Regions from separate parts of the Homo sapiens genome. Here region 1 is linked to region 2. The links come from fine-mapping of genetic effects on gene expression. A gene starts in region 2. The other region holds a variant in brackets. All regions are shown on one strand. Distances are between the middles of the regions. Region 1 has its middle 23 kb from the start of ZNF117. Region 2 holds the start of ZNF117 (zinc finger protein 117).

Region 1 (4,394 bases), 23 kb before region 2:
ATTTAAAAAGATAAAGTATCAATTTCTTTTTGTCAGTTTTGAAATACTGACATTATTTCTAGTTGACATAACACTAGAATTCAGATGCTGTGGCTGTAGAAAATAGAAATGTCATGGTTTACTTGGTTTTACTTCCTACCTTCCTATTTCACACAAACAAAGCAGCACAAGGGAAGCCAGAAATGCTACACCTTGATTGCAAAAAAACCAGAACCCTTCTAGAGACAATATATGTGTCAGCATAATAACTTGAAATTCATGGCATCTTTTGTTGAAGTAGAGGCTCCAACAAGAGGCTGAATTAATCAACAAAAGGCTGAATTAATTTGCATTCTCACAAAGACTGTGTAAACATTCCCTATTCTCCACAACATGCTATTTTTTTTTTTACTTTTTAATAACAGCCATTTTAACTGGTGTGAGATGGTATCACATTGTCATTTTGATTTAATCTCTTTAATGGCTTGAGATGTTGGGCAACTTTTTGCATGTTTCTTGACAGCTTTTATATCTTCCTTTGAGAAGTATCTATTGATATATTCTGTGCTTTTTTCCTATTACATTTCTTATAGATTTTGTATATTAATTTTTTTGTTGTATGCAGTTTGCAAATATTTTTCTCCATGCTGTAGCTTGTCCATTTACTTTGTCAAATTTCTTTTGCTGTGCAGGAGATCTAGTTTAATTAGGTGTCAATTTATATTTTTGTTGCATTTACTTTTAAGGTGTTAGTCTCAAATTGTTTTCAGAGGCCAGTGTCCACAAGAGTACTTTCTAGGTGTTCATATAGGATTTTCATAGCTTGAAACTTCATGTTCAGTTTTTAATCTATCTTGAGTTACATTTTTTATATGCTGAGAGGTAAGAGTTGTTTTTTTCTTCTGCATGTGACTAACCATATAGTCCATTATTTATCAGTACCATTTATCAGATGGAAAGTTATTTCCCCTTTATTTCTGTTGACTTTGTCAAAAATAAGTTGGTTGTAGGAGTGTAGCTTTATTTCAAGTCTCTCTCTTCTGTTCCATTGGTCTACATGTTTATTTTTGTCCGAGAACCATGCTATATTGGTTACTGCCACTTGTAGTACAGTTTGAAGTCAGGTAAAGTGAGGCTTCCAGGTTTATTCATTTTGTTTAAAGATGCCTTGGCTATTTGGGCTCTTTTATTCAATATGAATTTAAAACCATTGTTTTTAATTCTACAAAAAATTGCATTGATAGTTTGATAGAAAGAGCATTTAATTTACAAGTTGCTTTAGGCATCATGGACATTTTAATTATATTGATTCTTCAAATCTATGAGCATGGAATGTTTTCCATTTGTATGTGTTGTCCCTGATATCTTTCAGCAGTGTTTTGTAGTTCTTTTTTTTTTTTTTTTTTTTTTATTGATCATTCTTGGGTGTTTCTCGCAGAGGGGGATTTGGCAGGGTCATAGGACAATAGTGGAGGGAAGGTCAGCAGATAAGTGAACAAAGGTCTCTGGTTTTCCTAGGCAGAGGACCCTGCGGCCTTCCGCAGTGTTTGTGTCCCTGGGTACTTGAGATTAGGGAGTGGTGATGACTCTTAACGAGCATGCTGCCTTCAAACATCTGTTTAACAAAGCACATCTTGCACCACCCTTAATCCATTCAACCCTGAGTGGACACAGCACATGTTTCAGAGAGCACAGGGTTGGGGGTAAGGTCACAGATCAACAGGATCCCAAGGCAGAAGAATTTTTCTTAGTACAGAACAAAATGAAAAGTCTCCCATGTCTACCTCTTTCTACACAGACACGGCAACCATCCGATTTCTCAATCTTTTCCCCACCTTTCCCCCCTTTCTATTCCACAAAACCACCATTGTCATCATGGCCCGTTCTCAATGAGCTGTTGAGTACACCTCCCAGACAGGGTGGTGGCCAGGCAGAGGGGCTCCTCACTTCCCAGTAGGGGCGGCCGGGCAGAGG[C/T]GCCCCTCACCTCCCGGACGGGACGGGGCGCCTGGCCGGGCGGGGGGCTGACCCCCCTGCCTCCCTCCCGGACGGGGCGGCTGACCGGGCTGGGGGCTGACCTCCCCGCCTCCCTCCTGGATGGGGCGGCTGGCCGGGTGGGGGCTGACCCCCCCCCCACCTCCTTCCCGGACGGGGCGGCTGGCCGGGCAGAGGGGCTCCTCTCTTCCCAGTAGGGGCGGCTGGGCAGAGGCGCCCCTCACCTCCCGGACGGGGCGTCTGGCTGGGCGGGGGGCTGACCCCCCCACCTCCCTCCCGGACAGGGCGGCTGGCCGGGCGGGGGGCTGACCCCCCCACCTCCTTCCCGGACGGGGCGGCTGGCTGGGCAGAGGGGCTCCTCTCTTCCCAGTAGGGGCGGCTGGGCAGAGGCGCCCCTCACCTCCCGGACGGGGCGTCTGGCTGGGCGGGGGGCTGACCCCCCCACCTCCCTCCCGGACGGGGCGGCTGGCCGGGCGGGGGGCTGACCTCCCCACCTCCCTCCCGGACGGGGTGGCTGGCCGGGCAGAGGGGCTCCTCACTTCCCAGTAGGGGCATCCGGGCAGAGGCGCCCCTCACCTCCCGGACGGGGCGGCTGGCCGGGCGGGGGCTGACCCCCCCACCTCACCTCCTGGACGGGGCGGCTGGCCAGGCGGGGGGCTGACCCCCCCACCTCCCTCCCGGACGGGCGGCTGGCCGGGCGGGGGGATGACCCCCCCCACCTCCCTCCCGGATGGGACGGCTGGCCGGGCGGGGGGCTGACCCCCACCTCCCTCCCAGACGGGGTGGCTGCCGGGCGGAGACGCTCCTCACTTCCCAGACGGAGTGGCTGCCGGGCGGAGGGGCTCCTCACTTCTCAGACGGGGCGGTTGCCAGGCAGAGGGTCTCCTCACTTCTCAGATGGGGCGGCCGGGCAGAGACGCTCCTCACATCCCACACGGGGCAGCAGGGCAGAGGCGCTCCCCACATCTCAGACGATGGGCGGCCTGGCAGAGACGCTCCTCACTTCCTAGATGGGATGGCGGCCGGGCAGAGACGCTCCTCACTTTCCAGACTGGGCAGCCAGGCAGAGAGGCTCCTCACATCCCAGACGATGGGCGGCCAGGCAGAGACGCTCCTCACTTCCCAGACGGGGTGGCGGCCGGGCAGAGGCTGCAATCTTGGCACTTTGGGGGGCCAAGGCAGGCAGCTGGGAGGTGGAGGTTGTAGCGAGCCGAGATCACGCCACTGCACTCCAGCCTGGTCACCATTGAGCACTGAGTGAACGCGACTCCGTCTGCCATCCTGGCACCTTGGGAGGCCGAGGCTGGCGGATCACTCGCGGTTTGGAGCTGGAGACCAGCCCGGCCAACACAGCGAAACCCTGTCTCCACCAAAAAAATACGAAAACCAGTCAGGTGTGGCAGTGCGCGCCTGCAATCGCAGGCACTCGGCAGGCTGAGGCAGGAGAGTCAGGCAGGGAGGTTGCAGTGAGCCGAGATGGCAGCAGTACAGTCCAGCTTTGGCTCGGCATCAGAGGGAGACCGTGGAAAGAGAGGGAGAGGGAGGCCGTGGGGAGAGGGAGACCGTGGGGAGAGGGAGAGGGAGAGAGAATTACAGTTTTTAAAAAGTAGACTGTAGTTCTCCTTCTAAAGATATTTTACCTCCTTGAGTCAATCCATTCCTAGGTATATTATTTTTTGTTTGTGGCTATTTTAAATAGAGCTCTGTTCTTGATTTTGTTCTCTGCTTAAATGTTATTCAAGTGTTGAATGTTATTCAAGGTGTATAGAAATGCCAGTCATTTGTGTACATTGATTTGGTATCCTGACACTTTGCTGAATCATTTTTTAGGCTTGGGAGTCTTTGGGAGAAATCTTTAACGTTTTTCAAGTAGAGAATTATATCATCAGTGAAGATAATTTGACTTCCTCTTTTCTTATTTGGATGCCTTTTTCTTTTTTCATCTTGTTGGATTGCTCTGGCTAGGACTTCCAGAACTATGTTGAATAGGAATATTTAGAGTGGACATTGATCTTATTTTTATTTGTAAGAATGCATCAAGCTTTTTCCTGTTCAGTATAATGTTGCCTGAGGATAATGTTGCCTGAGGATGGCTCTTATTATTGTGAGGTATTTTTTTCAATGCCTTGTATGTCGCATGTTGAGAATACTTTTATGAACATTAAATTTCCTTTAATGATTTTTCCACATCTAGTGTAATAATTATATGGTTTAATCATTTTAATTATCTTTATATGGTGAGTCACACTTATTGACTTGCATATGATAAAACATCCTTGCATTCATGAAATGAAACTCACATGATTGTGGCAAAATAACTTTTTGATTTGTTTATGAACTCAGCTTACTAGTATTTCATGAAAGATTTTTGTTTCAATGTTCATCAGGCATACTGAACTATAGATTTTTTTGTTGTCTTAACT
Region 2 (4,394 bases):
GACCTCTACAACAAGAATTACAAAACACTGCTTAAATAAATCATATATGACACAAATAAATGGAGATTTATTTTATGCTCATGGATAAAAAAGATCAATATCATTAAAATGGCCATACTGCCAAAAGAAATTTACAGATCTAATGTAATTCCTATCAAACTACCAAAAACATTCTTAACAGAACTAAAAACAACTATTTTAAAATTCATATAGAACTAACAAAGAGCCCGAATACCCAAGGCAATGTATACACACACACACACACATATATACACATATACACACACACACACATATATATAAACGACTCATAGAACAAGAAACAGAATAGATAGCCAATAAATAATGCCACAATGCCACACACCTGCAACCATCTGATCTTCAACAAAGCTTACAAGAGCAATGCAGGAAGAATTCCCTATTTAATAAATGAGGTTGGAATAACTAGCTAGCACTATGCAGAAGATTGAAACTGGATGCCTTTCTTACATGATATATAAAAATCAATTCAAGATGAATTAAAGACTTAAATGTAGAACTTAAAATTATATATATATATATATATATATATATATATATATATATATATATATATATATATAAAACCTGAAAATAATCTAGAAAATAACCTAGAAAATTCTAAGACATAAAAACTGGCAAAGATTTTATGATGAAGATACCAAAAGCAATTGCAACAGAAGCAAAAATTGACAAATGGGACCTAATTAAACTAAAGAGCTATTTTGCAGCAATGGAAACAATCAACTGAATAAACAGACAACCTACAGACTAGAAGAAAATATTTGCAAACTATGCTTCTGACAAAGGTCTAAAATCTAGCATCCATAAGAAACTTAAACAAATTTATTTTAAAAAAAAAGAAGAAGAAGAATAAGCCAGGATCTGTGGCTCATGCTTGTAATCCCAGCACTTTGGGAAGCTGAGGCAGATGGATCATGAGGTCAAGAGATCCAGACCATCCTGGCCAACATGGTGAAACCCCATCTCTAATAAAAATACAAAAATTAGCTGGGTTTTGTGTCACGCACCTGTGATCCCAGCTACTCAGGAGACTGAAGCAGAAGAATCATCTGAACCTGGGAGGTGGAGGTTGCAGTGAGTCGAGATCATGCCACTGCACTCCATCCTGGTGACACAGCAAGACTCCATCTCAGAAAACAACAACAACAACAAAAAGAAAACCAAAAACCTAATTAAAAAGTAAGCAAAAACATGAACAGATACTTTTCAAAAGAAGACATACATGTGGCTGACAAGCATATGAAAACAAAATTCACGTTGTTAATTATTAGAAAAATGCAGAGAAAAACCACAGTGAGATACCATCTCATCCAGTCAGAATGCCTATTGTTAAAAAGTCAATGACAGATGCGGGCTAGGTTGCAGAGAAAAAGGAATGCTTATATGTTGTGGGAATCAGGAGGCCGGAGAGATCACTGGGTGCAACAGGAAGGTTTTATTTAGGTGGCCACTGGCCCAGCGGATTAACATCCAAAGGCTGAGCCCTGAACAAAGACAGGGCTTGACTTTTATACATGCATCAGGCAGGGGCAAGTCGGGTTTTTGGCGCAAAACCTGCGAGGTGAGAAAGCAGTCTTACAGAAGCAGAACAAAGGCAGTTAATCATACCGTGACAGGTTTTACAACAGGATTTGCAACATGAGCCTACCTTACTTAAACATGTCTTGTGACCTTGCCATGCTACAGAAAGAAAAACAAGAACTTACAAAATCTTTACAGACTTGCAGAAATAGTTACAAAAATAGTTGTGAGAGCAGAACAAAGAATAATGTTATGGGGAGAGAATTTCAAACAGGGAAACTGATAAGGAGAACTTGTTTTTCTCATCCCTGCTCCTGGAGCCCACTCCTTCGGAGCCCCTGCCTGGCCTTGCAGATAATTATCATAGCTCCAGCAGGACTTTGGAGTGAGTCAGACTGGTCAGGAAAGGACTTGTTTTCCCTTTACTTGTTTTTCCTTTTATATTTCCTGCTTCATTCCCCCCTTTGATGCTTTTTATAAGTAAAGTTTAAGAGAAAGCATCACTATCTTCATTTACTTCAAGAGGAAGTAGCTCTTTTCTTGGCAGGGGTTAATACTTAGTTAGGGCCATTAGTCGTGTGGTAGTCCGTCTGTCCACAAGAGCCTCTATGGCTGTTTGGATATTTTTGACAATGAGGGGTAAGAGACAAGGGAGTATAAGGCAAACTCCCAATATGGCTAGGACTATTTGTACTAAGGTTTTAAATCCTCCAAGGGATGAGAACCAACCTCTGAAAAGGGAATCTGGAGACTATCCTTTCCAAGTCTGAACTGGGATGTGAGCTAACTTTTGGATTTTAGCAGTTATTTCTTTGATGACCTTTCCTTCGTCATCAAGTTCCAGGCAGCAGTTAGTAAGGTTGAACTTTCCGCATACTCCCTCTTCCTGGGCTAGGAGGTAGTCTAAGGCCAGTCTATTTTGATAAATGACATTTCTCATTTTTGTGGCTTGCTGGGCAAGCAGATTCAAGGCCCCTGCAGTTTCATTGGTAATGATTTCTAGTACTGCCTGCAATCTTATAATGCGGTTAAGCATGTAAACTGGGGTGCGGTATCCCCACATTCCATCTTCTGCCCAGGTGGCTGGGCCATAATATTGAATTATTCTTTCAGGAGGCCATTCATTGTCCTTCCAATCTCCTATAGTTATGCCTCTTTTGCTTTTCCTTTTAGTTTCATCATAGATGGGGTATCCTAAGGCTTCTCCCTGTTTTAGGGGCATTAGGAAGAAGGACGGCCTAATTGTCCCCAGTACACAGGCCCCTGACCATTTAGCTGGCAGTTGTCGATATGCTTGTGGCCCACAGATCCAGTAGAGGCCAGAGGGTGCCTGCCAGGTATTTGGAGCTTCAAGTTGGTACCAAGAATGGTTTAAAGATGGGAAACGAGAGAATGGGCTTGGGTGTGGTGATTCAGAATTATTGCTTTTGCCCCTCCATAAAGTCTTTCCTAGTGTCTCGTTGTAATATTGTTGTCCTAGGCAAGTTAACTCTCCTACTGGGTCTGTAAAGGCCTTTCCCCAGCGAGCAATACAGAATTTTCCAATAATGGAGGTTTTTAAGAACCAGATGCTCTGACTTGATGGTGCAGGTTCGAGGGAAGAGGCGGTTAGTGTGAAATTATCTTGGGGCATTAGTTCCCTTGCTTCCCATGGCCATTGGTCTCCCATGTTCATTCCCCCACAGACATAACATGAAGCAACGTGCAGGCTGCTGGCTATGTTTTCAGCCAGTTGGGCGAATAAATTACTGGCCAAGGGAGGGGGCTCAGGCAATTTCTGGTTAACATGCTCATAGAATGACTCAAAAACTCGGAACTGTTGGGTTGAGCGGGTCCGAGTTTTCTTTATGATATATAGATAGACATAGGCTCCTGGGCCAATTTCTTCACCGCTGACTCGTGCCCCTAGCGGTGCTTTTAAACCTGTTGTCCATATGGGCTGATCTGGCTCTAAGATGGTAAGATTTACAGAATTGCAAGTGCTTGTTTTACAATCTGGTTCTAATGGTATTTTGGTAAGCATAATTGGCCCTAGTGATTGTTGGTTAGTGGACCACGTTGTGCAGTCCCAGCAAGTTGTTACTGGGGAATCGGTGGAACAAGCAGGGTGTGCATACCTATTTTTATGGCAGCTACTATAGTACTCCATGGAACTGAAGATTACGGGAAAGAGTGAGCCCATGGATACTATCTGGCAAACATCAAAGTATAAGGATACGACATCCTTGCCAGAGGGAAATACCTTGGTTTGGTTTAGAAGATCCCCTTCCTTTGACCCGACATGAATTTCAAACCAGGTCCCAGGTGAAGACTTAGGGTCATAACACACATAAGGCTGGCCCCTTCCTGGGTCACAGACTGAGTAGGTTGTCTGGTTGTGAGTACAAGTTCCTAGGCAGGTCCCAGCACACTCATAATAAGTGTGATACAACAGGGTTTTAGTCATGATGTTCCCCGACCACGTAGTGTGGGTGCAGTGGAGGCATCCCTCCCAGGGTTCTCCTTTTAACATGGATAAGGGGAGTAGCAAGAACAAAGTGATGAGTAGCATGTTCATACCCAGCATGGACAGAAAAGGCTTTTTCCTGGGGGGAGAAGGCTAAGCAAAGTGACAGCTTAATAGCAAAGTAATTAATATGACAAGGAAAATTACTGGACTTCAGATTTCTAACCACATTTACTTCCCTGATGATGACTCAAGCTTCGGCCGTGCATAGACTAGTCAGCTTCTGGGGTGACTAGAGCAGGGCTGTTGTCTCCTCAAGCTTCAGCCGTGTGTGGACTGGTCAGCTTCCGGAGTGACCAGAGCAGGGCTGTTGTCATCTCACTGG

The links. PIP is the estimated chance that this variant, and not a neighbour inherited with it, causes the effect.
Region 1: its variant is the best candidate, but not a certain one, in a credible set for the expression of ZNF117 in stomach (GTEx, PIP 0.51).

The regions. Positions count from the first base shown.
Region 1 is chr7:64,965,564-64,969,957 of GRCh38, forward strand. No RefSeq gene overlaps it. Among named protein-coding and RNA genes, the nearest start is that of ZNF117, 23 kb to the right of the region's middle. RefSeq lists enhancers at 2,150-2,893, 2,894-3,637 and a silencer at 3,735-3,935. The variant C/T (reference allele first, on the strand shown) is at 1,954.
Region 2 is chr7:64,988,898-64,993,291 of GRCh38, forward strand. It overlaps ZNF117 (zinc finger protein 117), which reads right to left and starts at 2,139. Exons shown (of 4, transcript NM_015852.5): 1 at 1,050-2,139. All of the region lies in intron 1 of ERV3-1-ZNF117 (ERV3-1-ZNF117 readthrough), which reads right to left. ERV3-1 (endogenous retrovirus group 3 member 1, envelope) reads right to left here. Exons shown (of 2, transcript NM_001007253.4): 2 at 1,459-4,394. The coding sequence starts at 4,129. The coding sequence ends at 2,315.